Linked DNA regions of Homo sapiens. The protein of the gene in region 1 interacts with the protein of each later gene in a pairwise test. Each region holds a gene or a part of one and is shown in the gene's direction. Other genes may lie near its edges. The genes, in order: MGAT5B, RBP3, TRIM35 and ATP23.

Region 1 (5,967 bases):
TGGTCTCAAACTCCTGACCTCAGGTGATCCACCCTCCTTGGCCTCCCAAAGTGCTGGGATTACAGGCGTGAGCCACTGTGCCCGGCCCATAATCTTTTTTATTTGGCTTATCATGCTCAACATTCTGACTCTGAGATTCGTCTATGTCATTGCACATAGCAGTAGCTTAGTATTTTTTTTATGTCCATAGGTTATTGGGGTACAGGTGGTATTTGGTTACATGAGTAAGTTCTTTAGTGGTGATCTGTGAGATTTTGGTGCACACATCACCCGAGCAGTATACACTGCACCCTATGTGTAGTCTTTTATCCCTCACATAAGGCCACATTCTGAAGTTCCAGCTGGATATGAATTTTGGAGACACTCTTCAGCCTAAGTGATGGAGCCCCGAGCACAGGGCCCACGCTGGCCAGCATCTGGTTCCACACAGGAAAGCCAAGTCCCTGTCCTGGAGGACTCAGGACTCCATTCGGGGTTTCAGGCTGGCCACTCACAACCACACCCACCGTGGGTCAGGGGGTTCAGAAAGTGACCTGGCTCTTGCAAGACGGATGGAGAGGAGCCTCGCTCCAGGGAGAGGTGCCTCCAGGAAGGGCTGAAACGGGTTGAGGTCCGTTCCAAAGTCTCTAGTTGACCTGGCAGGACCCCTGGCTTGGCTTGTCTTGACATAGGTTGTTTGTGCCCTGGGGTCTCTGGTTAGAAGGTAGGACAGGCGCCCAGTTTTTCTCCATTTTGCGTGCCTCCTGTCATGATGGGAGCCTTAGAGCCCGGCTCGTCTCCAGCTCTGAGCCTGCAGCAGTGGAGGTTTCCCTGCCTCTGCACTCTGTCCTTGAAATATTCATTCCAGGCTGGGTATGGTGGCTCACACCTGTAATCCCAGCACTTTCAGAGACTGAGGCGGGAGGATCACTTGAGCCCAGGAGTTGGAGACCAGCCTGGGCAATATATTTTCTACAGAAAATTAAAAAAAAATTAGCCGGACGTGGTGGCTCATGCCTATTGTCCCAGCTACTTGGGAAACTGAAGTGGGATGATGGCTTGAGCCCGGGAGGTTGAGACTGCAGTGAGCCATGATTGCGCCACTGCACTCCAGCCTCTGTCCAGGGTGGCAGAGTGAGAGCCCTTCTCTCTCTCCCTCTCTCTCTCTGTGTATATAAAAAAATATTCATTCCTGTCAAAGGAGTGTCCATCTTGCCCCTGTAGGTCAGCATGGAAAGCAGCTCCACGGGCTTCATCTGGACTGATGTCAGAGCCTGGCAGACATCAAATCGGCATGTTTCTTCTTGGAGGGAACCCAGGCATTCTCGGTGGGAGCACATCACTGCCAAAAGGGAGAACACTGGTTCTTGAAACAATCTTAGCTGTAAGAAACCTCCTAGACGGGCAATAATGAGAAAAGGTTGATGTGCCCTGGTCTAACCCAAGTCCCTGTGGCTGCTGCTTCAACCACATCAATATCAGTGCTGATCACGAATGCAAACAGTGCTGATGTCACACAGGTGCCGCTGGCCACGCACTTTACAGCTCTCTTCATTCAGTCCTCACCATGGTAGCTGCCCTTATGTCTTAAAAGATGAGACTGGTGAGCACAGAGAGGCTCGGTGACCTGCCCAGGGTCACATAGCTCATAGGGGTCTGAGCTTCCTCTCATCTCCTTGTATCATACTGGTAATGAACCTTGATGAGTTTTGGATAGATGAAAAATACTCCTACTTCCTTCTTCCTGAGGACTTTTTGAGCAAATGAAGCAGGTAGCTTTTACGTCTCTTCTCTTTCTTTGTAATCTCACAGAAGGCTGTCGTGCATTCAACTTTGTGCTCCAAAAAGCCATGTCCAAGTCCTAGCCCCAGGACCTGTGACTATGACCTCATTTGGATATAAGCTCTTTGCAGATGTAATCAAATTAAGAGGAGGTGCTACTGGATTTGGATGGGCCCTGGTTCCATGGCTGGTGTTCTTATAAAGAGAGGAAAGTGGACACAGACACACACAGGGGAGAAGGCCGTGTGAAGGCGGAGGCAGAGGTCGGGGTGGAGCAGCCACGGGCTGAGGAACACTGAGGGCTGCTGCTACCTCTGGAAGCTGGGAGGGAGGCCTGGGGGAGGCTCCCCTAGAGTCTAAAGGCGCCGGCCCTGCTGCCACCTCGCTGTCTGATTTCCAGCCTCCAGAGCTGCCAGAGGAGAAATGGGTGTGGTTTTAAGCCACCTGGTTTGTGGAAATTATTGCAGTCACCCCAGGAAACTAACACAAAAATGGTGGCATTTTTTATTTTAAGAGTTTTATGTTTGTTTGTTTTTGTCAAAGTTTGCCTTGGGCACTGAACTAGAGTGAGAGGACAGACTGGATTGTGTGTGCATGTGTGCGTGTGTGTGCATGTGTGTGCATGTGTGTGTGTGCGTGTGTACATGTGTGCGTGCGTGTTTGTGTGTGAGTGTGTGCGTGTGCACGCCTGTGTGCATGTGTGTGTGCATGTGTGTACATGGGGGGCTTGTTCCCCATTCCTGTCATCTGCCTTTTGTCCCCTCCACTTCGGTGTCTGCTTTGCTCCCACCTGTCACCCTGACTAGTCCCCCGATGTGTATGGGGCCACTGCCCTTTCTTTCCTTAGGAAAGGTGGAGGTGGGAGAGTGTGATGGCTGTAGAGGGCGGGTGGCCATTGAGGGTTCCTGCTATGCCTTCTCTAGTGGACAGCTCACTAGGCTCAGAAGAGGAGGAGAGGTGGGGTTTGCAGACCCGAACGGAGCCCAGGTTGGAAAAATCCTTCATCGAATTCCCATTATGTGCAGCCATAAAGACCAGTACCTTGTATAGGGATAAACGGAGCTTAAACTGGGCCTGCAAAGCCACGGGGTGAGGTGAGAATCAAAGGAAACCGAATTAATGTGTTAAAAAAAAAAAAAGGCAAGCAGCTTCCTGGAGAAAGACCCCCAGGGCTATCTTTGTGTGAGAAGATCTGCCAGCTGAGGGGAATCCATCTCAATAGAAGTTTGCAATGAGATAAATACTGCATATGACGGCTAATAAATGTCCCTGAGAGCTGAGTAGTAATCAACACAGGAAATAAATCCTCCAAAAATAAAAGCAACACTGGTATCGATGGTGAGGTGGAGGGCTGTGGTGGTGGCAGTCACCTCCTTTAAGATCCTGGGAAGGATTTGTTCTCAGGAAGCCAGTGATAATTTACCGGAGTTTTAATACCTGGCAAGTTCCCAGGCTTCTGCGGGTAGAATTTATTTTGGCACAATATGGCCTCTTGGGAGGAAATAGAGACAGACTCGGAGAGGCCCGGCTGTGCCTAGGAAAAGGCCTCTGTCACCTGTGTGACCCCTGGACAGAACCTAGCCAGGCTCTTGAATGGAATTCCTCTGCCTGTTTCAGCCCCATGCACTGCCCTTCAGCACACATGCAGTAATGCACGGACATGCCTGACACGTGCAGATAGGGTCACATGTGCAGATATGGGCACACGTGCCATTGTGGGCACACATGCAGATGTGGGCACATGTACAGTTGTGGCCACACATGCAAATATGATTACATGTGCAGTTATGGGTATGTGTGCAGTTGTGGGCGCACATGCAGTTGTGGGCACGTGTGCATATGTGGGGACATGTGCAGATGTGGGCACCTGTACAGTTGTGGGCACACGTGCAGTTGTGGCCACATGAAGACATGTTCTCTGACTGCTCAGGGAAGGTGGACATGAGGCCTGGGGCCGAGGGGTGGGGGATGTCCACTAAAGGGCTCTCTGCAGATATGATCACACATGCAGTTGTGGGCACAACATGCAGTTGTGACCAACATGTGCAGATATGGGCTTTCCCGTATGTCTGTAATGTGTGTACTGGATGGGGTGGGCTGCCAGCTCCATCTTCTCACCCGATTCACTCCCCACCATTTGGTCTGCTTGGGGTCAGGGTTTGGGAGCCTGGGGCATTGCAGAGCCTGCCGCCTTTGCCTGTGGGCCTTACTGGCAGGACCCTCATGGGAAGGTCACCCCGGCCGGTTCTGTGGCTCACCTCTGGCTTTTCCCACTTAGGATGCCCCCTGGGGCCGGCCTCATGGAGCGGATCCAGGCTATTGCCCAGAACGTCTCCGACATCGCTGTGAAGGTGGACCAGATCCTGCGCCACAGTCTGCTCCTGCACAGCAAGGGTGGGTGCCAGGGGGCGGGGGTACCCTCTACCCCTAGGGGGCCAATGAACTGGGTGCTGGGTGGGCCCTGGGAGGGTGGGACACTTGGGGTGTGGCCGACTTCTCCTGACAGCAGCTCTGCTGGCTCTTCGGGGCCCCAGTTTAGGCTTTCAGCAGGACAACTGGGGGTTCACTCCCTCGACCCGGCAGGAGGGCGCTGAGGACAGAGGAGGTCCCTGGAGTCTCAGCTTCTGGGGTCCACAGTTCCAGGAGTGAGGCCACCTGGGGAAGGGTCCCTCGGCGGCCCCTCCAGTCCCTGTGATGTGGGGAGCAGCGAGCTGGGGGCTGCAAACCTCATTTCTGCCTCCTCAGAAAACGCTGGGGATGCTTTCGGGTGGGTGCATGAGGTCTGCCCATCCAGGCAGCTGCTGAGTGGCTGTTCGCACCAGCTCCTCACTGCATCTGAACCCCCTGAGGAGGCCGGGGGCAACCTAGGCCCGGGTTGACCTTGTGGGTGGGTTGTGCGGCTGATGAGCTTTAAGGTGGGAAAGCCTGGCAGCGGATTGTGTGGGAAGCTGCCTCCCGCACGCAGGCCTCCCTCCCTGGGCTCCTCCTTGGACCAGGGACTTCAGCAAGGTGACCTCTCCCTACAGTGTCAGAAGGCCGGCGGGACCAGTGTGAGGCACCCAGTGACCCCAAGTTCCCTGACTGCTCAGGGAAGGTGGAGGTGAGGCCTGGGGCTGAGGGGTGGGGATGTCTACAGCTAGGGCCTCTCTGTCTGGCCCTGGCCCCTCACCCAGGCACAAGCTGGCAGAGGCCAACCTCAGGGAAACAGCTTCTCTGCTCAGTGCATCCACCCCACCCATCAATCCAAATCCCCCAGAAAGAGTCTCCCTCAGGTGTCGGTGCTTTCTCACAGCAAATGATTAAATCTCCAAGTGTCACCGCCAGCAGCCGGATTCCCCCAGAGACTCAGAGGAGTGGCCCTGGCTGCCCTGTCCCTGCTCCTCCTGGCCCAGCCAACAGCTGGACGGAGAGTCTTCCTGCCCCATTTCTGGGGCCACCACTGGCTGCATGAAGTCTGCCCTTGTAGGAGTCGTCCACAGCCGTGAAGTCAGCTCCCCACTGGTTCTGAACGCCCTAAGGGGTGGGCGGTGGTGCCGCAGACCCCTTCCTTGGTGACCATCTGGGATCACTGCAGGTGGATCCCGCCCTGGCTCCAGCCCTGGCCGCCTTGGAGGCTGCTCCCTGACCTTGGCCTCTAGCCCAATCCTGCTCTGGTAGCAGGGAGACGGGGACCAGAGGGAGAGGGAGACAGCCAGGCCTCCTGGCTCTTTGCCCCAGACCTTTGAGCCAGTGTTCTCTCCCAGTCTCTCCTCTTTCCAGACATGAGGGCTGGTGGTCCTGCCCCTGCCATCTCTGGGGTCCTTCAGGCGGGTCCTGGTTCAATCTCTTCTCTGCCCTGTCCCCTGTTGCATCAGTAGGGTGGGCCACATGGGCCCCATCCTTGACCTCAGGACCCCTGGGGGTGCACGTGCGGGGGAGTCCCCGAGGGTCAGTGGGGCTGGCGCAGCCCCCTGCCCAGCCTGGCCCTCTCTGCAGTGGATGCGTGCCCGCTGGACCTCTGACCCCTGCTACGCCTTCTTTGGGGTGGACGGCACCGAGTGCTCCTTCCTCATCTACCTCAGTGAGGTCGAGTGGTTCTGCCCCCCGCTGCCCTGGAGGAACCAGACGGCTGCCCAGAGGGCACCCAAGCCCCTCCCCAAAGTCCAGGTGGGCCTGGGAGGTGGGTGGGCCGGTGAGGGGCTGGTGTGGCTGGACATTCTTAAGGAC
Region 2 (5,967 bases), on another chromosome or scaffold:
AGATGGCCACCAAACTGAGCGGTCTGCAGAGCCGCTACTCCAGGGTGACCTCAGAAGTGGCCCTAGCCGAGATCCTGGGGGCTGACCTGCAGATGCTCTCCGGAGACCCACACCTGAAGGCAGCCCATATCCCTGAGAATGCCAAGGACCGCATTCCTGGAATTGTGCCCATGCAGGTGAGACCCAAGAGAGACCTGGCTGAACCCAGTCCCGGGAGTGAGTTGACCCATTGTCCGCACATGCAGGGCTCTGTGCACAGTGCGTGACAATGGCTTTTAGATTTGTTCTCACGTTTAAGTTTTGACCGGTCAAGTCCTTTCCTCTTTCTCAACCTGTTCCATCCACTCTCTGTGACCCTGGGGTTGCTGAACACCTCTGTAGAACATTCATATTAGGTTGGTGCAAAAGTACTTTCAATGGCAAAACCCGCAATTACTTTTGCACCCACCTCACAGGAAGCCAGTTTGAAAGCCAACCAATACTCACAGGAAGCCAGTTCGGAAGCTCCTGGGATAGAAGGCATTTCAGCCTTGGCTGGGTGGAAGGTGAGTGTTGGCAGGGCTTCTCATTGTCAGTGCTAGGGAAGAGGCCAACACCTGTCAGAGGTGGCCAATGGACTTCACCAAGTGCCCCACGCTGGCCGAGAGCTCCACCTAGGCAGCACTCACACCTCCACACTGTTCTACCTGTGGTCTGCTGCATCGTCACAATTGGGCAGGGCAGCATTTGCCATGGGATCCCTTGCAAGGAGGGTCTGAGACCAGGGCTTGGGTGCAGGCGCTTTGTCTGGGAGGCGGTTACTGAAGCAGGCATGAAGGAGGGAGCAGGGAGAGTGGGTTGGGAAGCTGACAGGCAGGTGCCTCAAAGCTGTTCTGCTGAAGCCAGGACCCTGACGAGTGCAGGGATGCTCCCAGGCATAGCCCTCTGCAGGCAGGGCCCAGTGGTTCCTGTCCCGCATTGGCCAAGAGTTGCCCTGAGACATGCCTCAGGGTGGGGCAGGCTCCCTCTTCTTGGAGAAGGCCTGAGCTACGGGTGGAAAGGCAGGGCTGTGCTATAGGAGAGCCTGTCAGTGGGGTCGGGTGCAGCTGAAAGCAGAGGGGGCTGAGAGTGCCAAAAGCATCTACTACAGAATTGTTATCCCCATTTTCCGCAACTGAGGCCCGGAGAGGAGCAGAGGGGAGTGGCCTGAGGCCAGAGAGCTGTGACTGAGGGCAGGGCAGGGCCTGGAGGGCAGTGTCTCTGTCAATGAAGTCTCCTTGCCTGTCAATCTCACCAAGACCTGCCTCCCTCCAGCAGCCTTAGAGAGGGAGGAGGAGGTGCATCCACGTGCGAGTAGCCTGTGCTAGGCTTGCAGAATCCCCAGTTTCCAAATCAACATCTCCTTCCTTTCCAGTATAGCCAAGGTTCACGATTTGGAGTCAGATGTGGATTCAGATTCTGGCTCCACCACTTACTGACTGTGTGACCTGAGACTAGTTACTTAATCTCTCTGTGCTTCAGTTTTTCCATGGAAAAGATGGGGATCGTGTTATCTCCTGTACAGGTGGCTGTGAGGATGATGATAAGCTCTACAAAGTGCTTAGTACCGGGCCAGGTGCCTGGTAAAGGTAACTAACATCTTCCAATCCTGCCCCAGTGGAGCAGCTTAGAGACATAGGAAGTATCTGGTAAGGTTGGAGAGGTCAGAGGGGAGTCCATTCCTGGGCCTTCTAGCTCAGGACACCAGGGCATGTGGGTGGCAGACAGGAGCATCCTCTGCAAGGAGGCTGCCCATAGATCACACATGTCCCAGTGGCATGTCACATCCAGACATGCCACTGGGAAAGTCCCTGGTGTCTACTAATTCCTTCAGAAATGTTAGTTCCTGTCCCATGCCCTTAATATTTCCCATGGCGCCTGCTTTCCTGGGCTCTAAAACTGGCTGCTCCTCCTGACACTGAGTAGGACCTCCAACTCTTACAGATCCCTTCCCCTGAAGTATTTGAAGAGCTGATCAAGTTTTCCTTCCACACTAACGTGCTTGAGGACAACATTGGCTACTTGAGGTTTGACATGTTTGGGGACGGTGAGCTGCTCACCCAGGTCTCCAGGCTGCTGGTGGAGCACATCTGGAAGAAGATCATGCACACGGATGCCATGATCATCGACATGAGGTCAGTGGCCAGGGGTCAGTGCTTCCTAGCCAGGACGCAGGGCTGCCAGGGGACAGTCAAAGCTATGGGCCACAGCAGGGAAGAAAAGGAACCCTGTGACACAGCAGAGGACCTGAGGGGGGCCAGGCCTCCTGCCTATCAGGGCTTCGGCCAGCTAGCCCAGCAGATCTGCTGTCATTGCAGGTGGGGCCCAGCACTGGTAGTTTTTGCAAGCTTCTCCAGTGATTCCAATGTGCATTCCAGATTGAGAATTACCCCAGATTTGCCTGGTCATAGGATTCAGTGGGGAGGAGAGGAAGGAGATGTTAAAAACACTGATTCCTGGGCCCCACTCCCCTCTTACTGACTCAGAAGCTCCAGGGGACAGGCCCGATAATCTCTATTTGACAGGCATCCCAGGTGATTCTGATGGTCAGTGGTGTGTGAGACAGCCAGGCCCCCCACCTGGGAGTGTGCCTCACATCATACAAAATCAACACATGACAACCCTGGTCATATGAATCGTACAGGCAGAATTTGGAAATCACACAGGGAAAATTTAGAAGTTAATCACTATTGTTAACAAAAGAATTCTTTGCATCACCAAATGATTGTCAGAAGGATGTCTTCAGCTAGCCACCTCCCCTCTGTTTCTGTAAAAATGTGCCTCATATGTCATGAGTTTACCTCATGGACCAGGGGTAGGAGGTGGATGAGTACCCTCAGGCAGTGGCCAGACCTGGCATCCCATGACTCTGGGGTCCATTGGTGGACATGCCCCAGCACCCTCCCTGGGCAGGTTGCCTTCCTCAGACGGGACCCTTCCATGCTCCCGTGTTGTCTGAAAGAAGTGGCAGGGGGTGGCAGACCAGAAGCATTCACCCAGCTCCAGTTCTCTAGCCCTCAGCGCTCACTCACATGGTTCTTAGTGGTCACTAGGTGGCTCTCGGTCCTGCACCCACTGCTTCTCCTCCCTGGGAGATAAAACATTAGCCCTGGCTCCAGTTCTGTGTGTGTTCACAGCCTGAGCTTGAGGCTCCTGGGGTCTCTCTGATCATTTTATTCTTTAGAAGTTCTGTTGAGCACCCAAATGACACTCATGCTAAGTCTCTTTCTTCTGAATATGCCATTTACACTTTTTAAAGAGGAGATGGCCCCAGCCTGCAAGTGCACTTTGCTTAAAGACCCTCCCACCCCTGAGGTTTGTTTGGAGGTTCAGACACTGACATCACAGGCCCCGAACCCAGCCAGGCCATCCCAGGCCATCAGTTGGACGAGGCTCCTTAACACATCACTAGCCCCAGTGGGGAGACAGGGGCCCAACGAGGTCACACAGTGGGACAAATCTAAATGGCCTGGGAGAAATACAGGCTCCCCTGCTCCCAATGCAGCTCCACAAGCCTGAATATTTCAATACACTAAGTGCCCTGTTAAGACACCTGAACTAAGACAGCTGGTAGGTGTCATAAGATTGTCACAGAATGCAACGGGAAAAACAATGTTTCCCAAAATGTGTTCCACTCATAGGAAGATATGGGTGCAGGGGAGCAGTCCATGGTCAATAAATGGGGGAAATTTATCAACAAGTTTCTGACTGCAGGACTTGTCAGGGCCTTTAATATATTAACATGTATTAATTACATAGCAGAAGGAAAGGATAACATATTTGATCACTAAGTTTCTTGTTCTAAAGAGACTAGTACTCTTGGAAATACTCTGGAAAATGCCAACCCATGGAATTCTAAAGGAGGAAGAGGCACTAGACTGAGGCTGCCAAGAATTAGAACCCTCCATGGGACAAAGATCCTGGCCTCCCCGAGGGGCACACAGGGCCTCACTGTGAGCTCAGCCCCTGAACAGGCTCTGCTTCCCATCCTTCAGGTTCAACATCGGTGGCCCCACATCCTCCATTCCCATCTTGTGCTCCTACTTCTTTGATGAAGGCCCTCCAGTTCTGCTGGACAAGATCTACAGCCGGCCTGATGACTCTGTCAGTGAACTCTGGACACACGCCCAGGTTGTAGGTACGTGGAGAAGCTTTCTCCTTTCTGCTGTCATTCTAGAAGCTTCTGGGAAACCAGGGAAAGACAGCTTGGGTGTAGGTAAAAGTCATAGTAACCAGAATGTAAGGCCCTGTCCTAGTCCAGGCACTAGATGTGCATGATCTCGAATCCCTGAAAAGCATGTATCACTATGCCCGTTTTCTAGAGGAAAAAAAAGGGGGTGTTGACTAGGTCAAATATCTTTTCTAGGGTCATGCAGCTAATAAGTGAAACCCAAAATGTGAATATTAGTTTGTCTAATACCAAAATTTCCCCCAGGCTTAGCACCATAATCACCAGCCTGCAGGACAAATGCAGAATTTGAAGGATTCTCCCCGCCCCTCACCAACCCCAGTGGGCATTGCCAGTGCTCACAGTACTTGAGCTCTCAAGCCACAGTGCCACAAACTTGCCTGGAAAGGTCATGATGCTGATCGGGCTTCTGTTCCCCGCCCTGGGCCCAGAGCAGTGGCTATAGGAGCAAAGGCAGGCCCTGAGCTTTACAGAACCATAACTCTCAAAGCCCCATTCCAGGGTGGATGGCCTCCATCTATCTTCCCTGCCCAGTGTGTAAGACCAAGGAACTTGTGCTCCTACCCAACAAGAAAGGACTGGAGAGACCGATGGGGGTGTGCCTGTGACCAGAGAAACACCCCACCATTTTCATGTCCATGCTTCTGTAATACACAGGCATTTTGCTGTAGCTCCTAGGACATACGTTCAATAATATTACAAGTGTAAATGCAAATCAGAACCAGGTGAATTCTAAATTCAAATAGATGTTCAAGACTGGAAGTTAAAGATAGACTCAATTCTGCAGATAATGAGGCCCCAAAACCGCAAGGTCCAATATGGGAGCCACAAGCCACCTGCGGCCACCAAGCATTTGAAATGTGGCTCTCCCAAGTTGAGATGTGCTGGAAGTGTGATGTGCTGGAAGTGTAATGTGCATACCAGATTTTGAAGACATTATGAAAAGAAAACCTCATTAATAATTTTATTTGATTACATTTTGAAAAGAATGTATTTTGGATACATTGGCTTAAACAAAACATGATTAAAATTAACACCATGGGTTTCTTTTTGCTTGCTTAACATGGCTACTAGGGAACCTAAAATGACATCTATGGCCAGCATTCTGGCTCACGTTGCATTCCTGTTGGACAGTGCTGTCCTGGAGAGTTGTTCTTATACATCACAAATTGGGCTTTTCTGAGTCCAAAGTGAAAAGGAAGTCAGGTCGGTTTAGGTGTTCTCATTATTCATGAAGAGAGAGGATGCTCCTTTCTCAGGAGAGTCAAGCCTTTCCTATCACTTGGCATAAAAAGGCCTCGTTGGGAGTTGTCAAGCACTGAAATCCTCGTGATTGGGCATGCATTCTTGTCCCCATTTTACGGATGCAGAAATCAAGGCTCAGAGAAGTCAAGTGGCTCACAAGTGGACACAAGGACACAGACCTAAACCCCCGGGCCTCCTCCATCACTGCAGGCCCAGGCAGGATAGAGAAGACAGGTGCTCCAGGGTCCTGACATGACCCCCATCCTGAAGGGCCTTATGTCTTCCAGGTGAACGCTATGGCTCCAAGAAGAGCATGGTCATTCTGACCAGCAGTGTGACGGCCGGCACCGCGGAGGAGTTCACCTATATCATGAAGAGGCTGGGCCGGGCCCTGGTCATTGGGGAGGTGACCAGTGGGGGCTGCCAGCCACCACAGACCTACCACGTGGATGACACCAACCTCTACCTCACTATCCCCACGGCCCGTTCTGTGGGGGCCTCGGATGGCAGCTCCT
Region 3 (5,967 bases), on another chromosome or scaffold:
TCCACTGGCAGAAGTGACAGATCCTGATTTGGGACAGCTGGAATAAGTGCTGGCCAGCCAGGGGTCTGGGGCCCAGGTAAAGGAGGGATCATGGTTCAGGTCATGACTGATGCCTATTTGGCTGGCCGAGGTGCTGATCAGGAGATGCTGGGGTCAGGGCTGAGAACACCCAGGCAGAGCCCCCAGGCTGGGGCCAAGCCAGGATTCAAGAGCAGAGAGCCATGCACCAGCAGATGCCTGGTACTGCAAGGTCCCAGGGATACTGCAGGAGACAAGATAGACCATTTCCAGCCTCAAGGAGCTTCCAGCAGAGACCCGAGGGAAGAGGAGGTGTTAGCCAGGTGAAAGAGGGTATTTCAGATAGAGGCAGCAGCATTTGGAAGGGTCCAGAAGTGGGAAAGCCTGACTTTCTAGGCACTGAGGGAATTTAAGGGTAGTTAGAATGAGGAGGGACGTGCAGGAGGATCCAGGAGGCCGGTGGCTCACCCTTGCTGTGAACAGCAGCTGGGGGTTTTAGCAGAAGAATGATGGTGTCAAGTCAGTGGACACTCAGGATGATGTCAGGGGCTGAGTAGTCTAGTCCCAAATGGATCTGAGAAGAATGAGAGCCAGGTGTGGTCAGCCTGATGCAGGGTGCAAATCACTCATTTACTAGACAAATGGGTACTGATGGCTGTTGTGTGCTGTGGCCTCTTCTTAGCTTCATGGAATTCTCATTTGAGCAGGGGGCATAGACAGTCAATAGACAAGATGTAGTTCTGTGTGATTCAAGGTAGGTGGTTGTGGGGGAGCGGTATGGGAAGATTCCCTCCACCACTTGGTAAGAAGGGACTGGGTAAGAAGCTGTGTGCCTCACTGAGGGGGTTTTCCGTTTTGTGCTGTGGGGAGCTCTGAAAGATTCTAAACAGGGGAGTTTGTGATGGGATGTGTGTTTTAGAGAAAGATTACTTTGCCAACTATCTATGTGAGGAACAGCAAAGTCAAAATCATCCCAGCTAACACATTTCAGTGCTCACTGTGTGCTAGATGCTTTTCAGTGTTCACACGTCAACAAATTTAATGCTCACAAAAACGTATTTTCAGGTCCTGTGTTTCCTGTTACTGCGTAATAAATGTGGTGGTTTAAAATAGCACAAGTTTGTTCTCTTATGGTTCTGGAGGTTGGAAGTCCTAAAATCGAGGTGTCTGCAGGGCTACATTCCTTTTGGAGGCTCCAGGGAGAATTTATTTCCTTGCCTTCTCCAGCTTGCAGAGGCCCCTTCTTCCAGCTCTGAAGTGTGTCATTCCGTTCTGCATCTGTTGTCACTTTGACTTCTTTGACCAGTTCTACTACCTCCCTCTCATAAGGACCCTGTGATGACATTGGGCCCACCCAGGTAATCCAGGATAACCTCCCCACAGCAAGATCCTTAATTTAATCATCTGCACAGTCCCTTTTGCCATACAAGATTCTGGGGATTAGAATGGGGACATCTTTTCGGGGAAATAATTATTCAGCTTGCTACAGTTAGGTGCTATTATCCCCATTTTATAGACAATTATAGAATCATAGAGAGGGTAAGAAACTTGTCCAAAGTCACAGAGCAAGTAGCTCTAAAGATCACCTGGAGCCTTGTTCAGTTCACACACTGGTCCTGGACTTTGAGAGAGGTTTCTCTCATCTCAGACTTCAGCGGGCAGCTGACTGTGTGTTAGGGGTTGGAGTGGCTGTTGACCATTGTCAGGGCTGGCAGAAGGTACTGGTTGTGTGCCAGTACTGTGTCCAGGACAGGACCGGACAGTCCTAGACCTTGCCTTTGTGGGCATGGTTGTATCATCTCACTAATAATTACATAGTTTCAGCTCAACATTCCTGTGAAGGACAGTACAGGATGTGGTGGGAGATTGTAAGGGGGAGGCTGCTCTTGTTTGGTGGGGTGTGGGAAGGAGTCTCCAAGGAAGTGATTTCGCTGAGAGGAGCTGATTGAGGGGCGGCGAGCAGTGTGTGTGTGTGGCGGGGGTGTGGCGGCGGGGCACAGCGTGGGGGTGTGCAGTGACTGAGAGATGGTTCACGTGGGGATGAGGAACTGCAGGACAGATCCCACAGGACACAGAGGGCCCTGCTTAGGAGCTGGGATTTTTATCGTAGGTGCAGTGGCGCATGATGGAAGGACTGATGAGATTTGGGAGCCTGGCATCATGTTTACAGCAGAGCTGTAGCAAGGAACAGTGCTTGGAAGGACCTTCAGAAATCCTAGTCTGGCGTTTCTCAAACTTGAACAAGTATGCATTCTTCTTAAAGGAAAAAATAGTCTAGCCAGTGAGAGTTAAATTATGTTATTATTTACATGCATACAAATGCAAACCTGGTATAAATAGCACTTGCTCATGCTACATATAAGCAATAAAACAAAAGGAAGTGAACAGACTGAATACAAAACTATAATCAATAACATTCCACTTAAAATATTAATTCTAAAGTTTTATTTTGCTGGAACAAAATCTCTACTCCTGGCCAAGATACTTCTGATTCTCCCATTACTCTGTTCCAAGTGACTACTTAATCCGCCCAAATTTCTCTGAAGAGCTCTGGAGCTTTCTTGTTACGGGATTGGCCTTCATTTGGGTCCGGCACATTCTTTACCTGCTATGTGTATTTCTCTTCTTTCCTTATCAGGACAAGACGATGAAAGTCATGTCTTGATATCAAGTAAGCTGTTAAGAAAATATGAATGGTGGCCGGGTGTGGTGGCTCATGCCTGTAATCCCAGCACTTTGGGAGGCCGAGGCAGGCAGATCACGAGGTCAGGAGTTCGAGACCAGCCTGGCCAGTATGGTGAAACCCCATCTCTACTAAAAATGCAAAAATTAACCAGGCATGGTGGCAGGTACCTGTAGTCCCAGCTACTTGGGAGGCTGAGGCAGGAGAATCGCTTAAACCCGGGAGATGGAGGTTGCAGTGAGCCGAGATCGTGCCACTGCCCTCCAGCCTGTACGACAGAGCAAGACACTGTCTCAAAAAAAAAAAAAAGAAAGAAAAAAAGAAAATACGAATGCTGATGATGAAGTTGTGAACTGAAAGCATGTGTCAGCGCTGTTTATGTCGTGGCTTGGAGTAGGATTGTCTTAGGTTTGGTTTAGGTTGCCATTAAATGAAAACATCCTCAGACACAGACCGTGCGTCATTCTATTGTGATGGAATGGTTACATCTTGTGAGGAGGTGGTTACATCTAAGTAATGAGAAGTGGATCAAGGCCAGTGTGTTTCATGCCTGTAATCCCAGTGCTTGGGGAGGCTGAGGCAGGAGGATTGCTTGAGGCCAGTAGTTCAAGATCCTGCACCAAAGAAGAAAAAAATTAGCCGGGTGTGGTGGCACATACCTGTAGTCCCAGCTACTCGAGGGGCTGAGATGGGAGGATTGCTTGAGGCCAGGCATTCGAGGGTGCAGTGAGCTATGACTGGGCCACTGCATCCAGCCTGGGCAACAGTGTGAGACCCTGTATCTTACATAAATAAATAAATAAAGTTCTAGGATCAGAACTCAGGTTTCCTGCCTCCCAGTCCAGCACTCTCCAGCTTGCATCTTCTACAGCAGCCCTGTGCTGAGCTGCCTTGTGCAGACCCTTGTCTTATCCATCTTGCAGGACTGGCATGATGACCATTCTTTGCCACCAGCCTCTCCCTGTCCCAGCTCCAGCCCTCTCTCCCCTTCTGGCGTCAACATCTTAGAGTCCATCTGGCTGGATCTAACCCAAGGGTACTCTCGATACCTCTTAAGCCACATTCCAGGTCTTCCCCCTTCCAATGCTTTTCCCCATTTCCTAACCACTCACCCCCATCCTGATCCCCAGCTTCTAGGTGAGGACTTACCAGCTCTTTGGTTGCACCAGAGGACATTGTTGCTTGCTTGCTTGTCCAGGCCTGTGCCCAGTGGTATTGGGAGTGGGGGGTGTCTCACTAGACCCTGCACACTGAGGCTCCTGAGTGATGGCCTCCAGCAGTGGGCTGCATGGCAGACACTTGCTTTGGAAGGAGGTCTGAACACAAAGGGGAAAGACAGATCTGGGAGACTGATTTGGAGTTGCATAAGAAAGCTCCATGCATTTTTACTGTTCATTTAAGAAACCTGGACCATATCCAGCAGGACAGTTAGGTTACCTGGCATGTAGGTGGCACTTAAGAGCTATGCCGAATGCACAGCATGTGCCTGCCACTCTCATGTAAGCATCTTATAGGGATTGATTTGTGGAGTCCTCACAGCAGTCCTTTGAGCTTGGTAGTATTTTTTATCCCTCTTATCCAGATGAGGAAATGGAGGTGCAGAGAAGTGAAGGAACATGTTCAAGATCACCTGCTACTAGGTAGAGGTGCTGGGATTTGAACCTGGTCGGCCAGGTGCCAGAACTCTTGGCTGCTACATCAATCTGCCTGAAAACAAATCGTGAAATTTGGGAGACTGTAGAGACTTCTCTGCTTTCATTTTTAAGGTGAGGAGCCTGATAGCCGAAGAGAGAAGGAACTTTTTACCAACTCACCAGTGGATAGTGACAAAGACAAGGCTCCAAACCAGCTCTCCTAACCTTCAGTCCAGGAGGCAAGGTATATAGCAGAAAAAACACAGGCATTCCATGTACTCATTGACTGGGCAGGTGGTTAACTGAACATCTACTTTGTGCAGGGACTTGGACATGCAGGGGACAAAACAAAGTCTCTCACCTTGCAGAGCAAGCATTCCTTCTGCAGAAGTGTACCGAGCACCACTATGCAAGGTAGAGAGGACCTGGAGGTTAAGACCTGCCCTCAGGAAAGAGAAGCTATTACCCTGGATAGTGAGTGCTGAGACAGAGGTGGCCAGGGTGCTGTGATGCCCTGGAATGGAACCTGAGCTGGCAAGATCGGGGGGCTTCCTGGAGGAAATGAGGGGTACTAGAGCCGAGTTTTCAAGGTGATGTTGGGTTAGTTGGGGGAAGCAGGTGGGAACCAGGCAGAGCAACAGTGTGTATCAAGTCTCACAAGACAGAAAACCTGGCTCAGGCCAGACAGAGCTGGTTTCACATGCAACTCTAGCACTTTGGTAAGTCCTTGCAAAGAGGCTATGAAGACCTTGTGCAATGAAATTCATTCTTTCCCTTGCCCCTACCTTCCTGCTTCCAGCTATACCACAGAGCACCTGTCCTGTTAATGAAAATTGTGGGTAACGTGATTTTGTAAAGTGCTTAAGATCTTCAATATGCAATTGAAATTTGTTGCTTAAGGAATCAACTTGTCATTTTTGGGAAATCATGTAGTCTATATGATCACATTCTGGATCCTTTAGTATGAATAAAAACCTATTTTGTGTGTGTTTATAACTAATCTTTAACGTAGGCTGGACGCGGTGGCTCATGCCTGTAATCCCAGCATTTTGGGATGCCGAGGCGGGCGGATCACCTGAGATCAGGAGTTCAAGACCAGCCTGGCCAACATGGTGAAACCCTGTCTCTACTAAAAATACAAAAATTAGTTGGGCATGGCGGCAGGCACTTGTAATCCTAGCTACTTGGGAGGCTGAGGCAAGAGAATTGCTTGAATCTGGGAGACAGAGGTTGCAGTGAGCCGAGATTGCGCCACTGCACTCTAGCCTGGACAAGAAGAATGAGACTCTATCTCAAAAAAGTAAAAAATATAAAATAAATAAATAAAAAATCTTAATGTTATAATGTGATGCTAACATCGAAGCTTGTTTGCTCTCCTGAGCTTGGGCTGGGGGATGCTCCAGATCTGTTGTGGGCCCCTGCTACTGCCCATCTCTGCTCATTCATGTGCTCCTTGGGCTACAGGCAGGCCCCTTGAGTGGTAGTTCTATTTGTAATCTAAGCATATTTAGGGTTAAAATTAATACCAAAAGCAAACAAAATAATATTGTTTAGATGCATTCAAATTCACACTTCTTACATGTCATATTTCCTAGGTGAACCACTAGATGCACAGAAGGGGAAAATGGAATA
Region 4 (5,967 bases), on another chromosome or scaffold:
GTGGCAATATAGAACAAGGATGAGAAGTCTAGATTTTGGAGTCAGACTTGAGTTCAAATCCTAGTTTCCTTGCTTATTATCTGTGGGGCTTGGGCAAGTTATTTTTCTTCTTCTCAGTTTCCTCATTTGTAAACTGGTAATCACAATACCTATAGCTCTCAAAATGGCTCTGGATAAGTTCACTCCCTTCTCGGTCCCCCCAGGGTTAAACAGAGTGCACATCTTGAACTTTCATCCTAATTCTCAGCAGTGTTGAACACAGTTGGGCACCCTCTCCTTTTATTTTATTATTATTTTTTAAATTATTATTATTTTTGAGACAGAGTCTTACTCTGTCACCCAGGCTGGAATGCAGTGGTGCAATATGGGCTCACTGCAACCTCTGCCTCCTGGGTTCAAGTGATTCTCCTGCCTCAGCCTCCTGAGTAGCTGGGATTGCAGGCATGTGCCACCATGCCCAGCTAATTTTTGTATTTTTAGTAGAGTCAGGGTTTCACCATATTGGCCAGGCTGGTCTTGAACCCCTGACCTCAGGTGATCCACCCATCTTGGCCTCCCAAACTGCTAGGATTACAGGCGTGAGCCACTGTGCCTGGCCTATTTTTTTAAATGAAAATTTTTATTATGAAGTATCTCATTCATACAGAAGAGTAAAACATCTATATGTACACTTTCAGTAATAATAAAGTGCACACCTATGTAACCACCACCCAGACTAGAGAAAAAGAACATTACTAGGACTTCAGAAGCCTTCGTGGTCCTCTTGAATCAGGTCCTTTTCCCTTCCTTATCCTGACTTTTGTGGTAACCATTCCCTGCTTTTCTGAATGGCTTTACCATCTACATATACAATCCAACAGTGTGTTATTTAGTTGCCTGCTTTTGAGCTTTATACATGTTATACTTTGAATTTTATGTAGCATTTTGTAGTATTATGAAATTGTACAGTATATAGTCTCCAATTACTTTCCACCTTCAGCATTTGTGAGATTCTTTCTTGTTGTTGTGTGTACCTCTCTGGTTTATTTCGTTTCCCTGTTATATGGTATTTATTCCGTTGTGTGTTTATACTATAGTTTACTCTAATATTGATTGTTTCCAACTTTGTTATTATGAACAATGCTGCTATGAATATTTTTGACCTTCGCTACTGGTGCACATGTGCAAGAGTTTCTCTAAGGTATATGCTCAAGAGCAGAATTACTGGGTCATATAGTTTGTATACACTTGACTTCAGCTGTTAATGCCAAACACTTTCTTTGGTTTCTAGTATACAGCACTCTTCTGGTTGCTCCTTTGCTAGCTTACCTTCCTCTACTAGCATTTAAATGTCAAAGTCCCTCAATCCTTGGTCATAGAGCCCCTTCTTTTCTTACTCTGCCAAGGAGGTCTCATCAATTTTCTGGGGTCAAAGCTCACTTTTAAGAACTCCACATTCCATATATCCAAGTGCCCATTTAACACCTCTACTTGAGCATCTTTTTATTTATTTATTTATTTTTATTTTTAAGGAAAAAAAGTTTTTTTGGGACAGGGTCTTGCTCTGTCGCCTAGGCTGGAGTGCAGTGGCGCAATCATGGCTCACTACAGCCTTGAACTCCTGGGCTCAAGCAATCCTCCCATCTCAGCCTCCTGAGTAGTTGGGACTACAGGAGTGCATCACTGGACCCAGCTAACTTTTAAAATTTTTTGTAGAGATGAGGTCTCACTATGTTGCCCAGGCTGGTCTTAAACTCCTGGCCTCAAATGATCCTTCCATTTCAGCCTCCCAAAGTGCTGGGATTACAAGTGAGAGCCACTGCTCCCCACCTACTTAAGGGTCTTAAGGACACTTCAGACTTGAAATGTGTAAGTCCAAATTCATGATTTTTACCATCCCCCATCTCCCCACTCAACCCAGTCTTTTAGTTTTGCATATCTCAGTGGATGGTGCTACCATCGACCCTATTAGCCAAGCCAGAAATTTATGGATCATCTTTGATACCCCTGATTCCTTCCCCGTATTCTATCAACATATTTTGTCTAATTTACCTCCTAAATAACTCTTTTGGCTTCCACCACCATTCTAGCTGAAGTGCTGTTCTCTCTTGCCTAGAATATTAGCCTTCAGCTAATTTCTCTGCATCCAGTTTTGGCCATCTCCTGCCTATTCTTCCAACTATAGTTAAAAGGATAAAAGCAAAATAAAACAAAAGCAGTCTTCTGTTTCAACATTCCCTTTATCCTGAGAGCTTCCCATTGCTCTTAGGGTAAAGACAAGGTCTTCAGGGATTTGGCCCCCCGACCTCACCAGCCGTATCTGTTGCCTACCACCCCCACCGCTGTGCTTCAACTCTAGGGCTCTCCTTTTAGCTTCTCAAGCATTTTCTTCCGTCAACCCTCCCTCTACGCTTTGCATAGGTTTTTCTCTCTGCCTAGAATACTCCCTTCCCCTCCACACCTCAAATTTCACTTCTATTCCTCCATTAGATACCAGTTTAACCATTCCTTCCACAGAGAAACCTTCCCCCACCTCCAGAGTAGGTCAGGCATTCTTTCTTTTTCTTTTTTTTTTTTTTGACACAGGGTCTCCCTTTCTTGCCCAGGCTGGAGTTCAGTGGCGTGTTCCTGGCTCACTGCAGCACCAACCTCCTGGGCTCAAGTGATCCTCCTACCTCAGCCTTCCAAGTAGCTGGGACTATAGGCATGTGCCACCATGCCTGGCTAATTTTTATTTTATTTTTTTATAGAGATGGGGTTTTGCTCTGTTGCCCAGGCTGGTCCCGAACTCCTGGGCTCAAGGAATCTGCCTGCCTCAGCCTCTCAAAGTACTGGGATTATAGGCATGAGCCACTGCACCCAACCTCATTGTATATGCTCATGACAACCTGGGTTTTTCTTCATGACAACTGTCATTGCATGTATGTAAACATTTTGGTAAATATTTGGTTAGTTTCTATCTCCATCAGTAGATTATAATCTATTATTAGGTCTCAATAAGTATTAGTTGAATCAATGGATGTTGAATGAATGTATATAAATATCTGGCACATATCCCAGTGTCTGGCAGTAGTACACAATCAATGGCAGCTATTACTATTAGGATCCCTTGTGTCTTTCTTATTCTTATAGGGTCCTGCTCAGTGTGCTGTTGTGTTTTGCACTTCTTTCTGAAGGTCTTTCTGATGAGTTTTCCCTGGCATTTGCCCTCATTCTAGTAAAATGAGGACAGTGGTGGTCATTCCTTTTTCATTCAATGCTCATTCAGAAACTTGATAAGAAGTATTTTACATATATTCTCATTTAATTCTCACAGTTCTATGAGGTAGCTACCCTAATTATCTCCTTTTTATAGTTGAGGAAATTGAGGTACAGAGAGATTAAGAAACTTGCCTAAGGTCACTGAGTTAGTAAGGGGTGGAGCTGGAATTTGAATCTGTGTGCTTCATTCCAAAGCCCACTCTCTTAACCATAATGCTGTGGAGTCCGAGACAGACTAGTACGATCAGCCCAGTAAGGATGGTGTGTGAATACGTGTCCTTAATCTAAGTACTGCTGTAGTCCAGAGAGAGGAGAAGGGAGAAGTTAGTCACTGGGCGAGGCAATTGGAGCATGTACACTTAGGACTAGGACTTGTCCCATGGGTAGATGTGTGGCCAATGAAGAAGAGTGGGTAGAGATATTCCAGGCAGGTGAGCTTGTGGGGGAGAGGTGAGGTCATGTGGGAGAGAAGATCGAGTCTATGGAAGGAGATTTTAGAATCACTGAACTTCTTTTATTTTGGTGTCTCCTAGATAGTTTTGTGCCAGAATAATATCCATAATCAGGCCCATATGAACAGAGTGGTCACACACGAGCTTATTCATGCATTTGATCATTGTCGTGCCCATGTCGACTGGTTCACCAACATCAGACATTTGGCGTGCTCAGAGGTGAGTTTTATTGTATTTTTCTCCAGAATACTCTATGCTTGAATATTTTATTCAAGTGTAATTTATTTAAATGTATTCCTTTTCTTACTGTCATAGTTCTACCTTAGTCTTGAATTTCGGTTTATAACTAACATTGAATACCATTTTTGATATACAGTTAGAGAAATTTAAAGTGTATTTTTAGAATTCTCTTAACTATATCCTGTAAGTCCTAGTAATAGTGATGACTGACTTTAATAAGCTATTAATTTTTTCCTATGGAATATATTTTATAATGTATTCCATAGGAGACATTAATAATAAAAATAAAAATAAAAAAATAATTAAAATTTACTGAGGGCTGTGTTCCAAACACTGTTCTGTTTGCACAGATTCTTATTTAATCTTCACAATAACCTACTGAGATAGATATTATACTATTATTGTCCCTGTTTTACATATGTGGAAAGTGAGACAGTTGTTTAGATTCCAAAGTTAGTAAGTGGTAGAGGCAGGATTACAACTAGTGTTTTTAACTAGCTTGCCCAGCTGCCTTCCATAGAGCTCCTTGCTTGCCCTAGAGTAAAACATGCTCTTTTCAAAAATACAACATAAAAAGATATTTATTACTAAGCACGTTGGATTGCTCTTGGAATATGCTCCTAGAGAGAGCGTATTCTGCATATGCATATACTTGGATGTCATTAATTGAAGAGTTAATTAAAATAATCTAAATCTCAAGCCTATACTATATAACTTCGATTATTTCCCTTTCTCTTGAAATTAATATGTAGCCCCCTGCATCTAATTATAATTCCAATTATTTGGAGAATAGACTGAAACCTGAATTTTTAAATAGGTCTCTTTCTTGGGTACTGTGAGAATTAATGCCTTTTAGCTAGTTAAAGTGTGTTAAGTACTTTGAGCTCCTCAGAGGAATGAGGCCATAATATTGAAGAAGGAACAAGAAGTGGGCCATTCTGTTAGCAATGAATTAGCAAAAATGTGGTCAAGCTGCCTGTAGAATCTATGTGGGTAGTTCTAAGACTTTTTCATTCATTGAAGTATAGTAAATCTGAAAATATGTCCTAATTTCAGGCTGTCATGCTCATAGCGTGACCAGTTTGGAATGTTCTTGATTCTTTGTGTTTTGTATTGCTTCATTTTTCATAGGACAATCAAGTCCCTAGAGGAAGGTCATGAACTTATATAGGTTTGAGGGAAGCTCCAAGGGAGATTCGGGCAAGGGTTGGGAGGGGCATATTCTCAAAGTGTCTCAGATATTAATGCATTCAGTTTTAAGGTCACATTGAAACTCAGTTTATTTCAAGAATGCTTTCTTGAAGTACTTTTGGCAATTTCTACAAGTATTTGTATCTTGTAGAGTGTGTAGTTTAACTCTGAGGTCTAGCTCTCTGACTTTTGGTTCCAAAAGAAATTAGTTCTGTCAGTAAAGCTACGCATAAAGTTTAGAAAATTTCCTTTGGTAGGCGATTGAACTTTTCCCCATCTCTCCAGTGTATTTGGCATTGTCTAGCATAGCTCATAGATATTTGCTCTCGTTGTCAATAGAGTTTAAAAAGTCCTTTAAGAAGAAGTGTCACAAATACTCTTTTCTCAGACAAAGATGCTAATTTTATATTCTTTTCTAATTTTTAAAAATTGGTTGATATCATAAAGATATATAGAGCATGAGCGTTTATTTCTTTTTATTTGTCTTCTGTGTGATAGGTTCGAGCTGCTAACCTTAGTGGAGACTGCTCACTTGTCAATGAAATATTCAGGTTACATTTTGGATTAAAACAACACCACCAGGTAAAAACTAATATGAAATCACTTCCCCTCCAGAGTGTTACGAGTGGAAATAATGAATAAAGAAATGAAAAGTACATTCAGTATTTGAAATTTGAAAGAACTTCGTATGTGAAAAGAATACAAAGTATGTACCATTTAAACAAAGTAGATGGAATTTAGTTCTACTTTGTAATTATGGGCAAGCTATGTGACTCAATGAGTGTGTGAGATAGTCTAATAATGAAAAGAGGCCTGGTGCGGTGGCTTATGCCTCCCAGCAGTT

What was found.
Region 2: the proteins of MGAT5B (region 1) and RBP3 interact in a two-hybrid assay, tested with the Homo sapiens proteins (one large-scale study listed by BioGRID).
Region 3: the proteins of MGAT5B (region 1) and TRIM35 interact in a two-hybrid assay, tested with the Homo sapiens proteins (one large-scale study listed by BioGRID).
Region 4: the proteins of MGAT5B (region 1) and ATP23 interact in a two-hybrid assay, tested with the Homo sapiens proteins (one large-scale study listed by BioGRID).

What each region holds. Positions count from the first base shown.
Region 1 is NC_000017.11:76,898,516-76,904,482, forward strand, and holds part of MGAT5B (alpha-1,6-mannosylglycoprotein 6-beta-N-acetylglucosaminyltransferase B), read left to right. Parts: intron 1-4,039; coding exon 4,040-4,155; intron 4,156-4,787; coding exon 4,788-4,861; intron 4,862-5,736; coding exon 5,737-5,907; intron 5,908-5,967. UniProt on the Homo sapiens protein: Glycosyltransferase that acts on alpha-linked mannose of N-glycans and O-mannosyl glycans.
Region 2 is NC_000010.11:47,351,363-47,357,329, forward strand, and holds part of RBP3 (retinol-binding protein 3 precursor), read left to right. Parts: coding exon 1-176; intron 177-1,962; coding exon 1,963-2,153; intron 2,154-4,013; coding exon 4,014-4,156; intron 4,157-5,739; coding exon 5,740-5,967.
Region 3 is NC_000008.11:27,303,373-27,309,339, reverse strand, and holds part of TRIM35 (E3 ubiquitin-protein ligase TRIM35), read left to right. Parts: intron 1-4,496; exon of another isoform or gene 4,497-4,579; intron 4,580-5,967. UniProt on the Homo sapiens protein: E3 ubiquitin-protein ligase that participates in multiple biological processes including cell death, glucose metabolism, and in particular, the innate immune response.
Region 4 is NC_000012.12:57,947,985-57,953,951, forward strand, and holds part of ATP23 (mitochondrial inner membrane protease ATP23 homolog), read left to right. Parts: intron 1-2,729; exon of another isoform or gene 2,730-2,900; intron 2,901-3,773; coding exon 3,774-3,911; intron 3,912-5,621; coding exon 5,622-5,705; intron 5,706-5,967.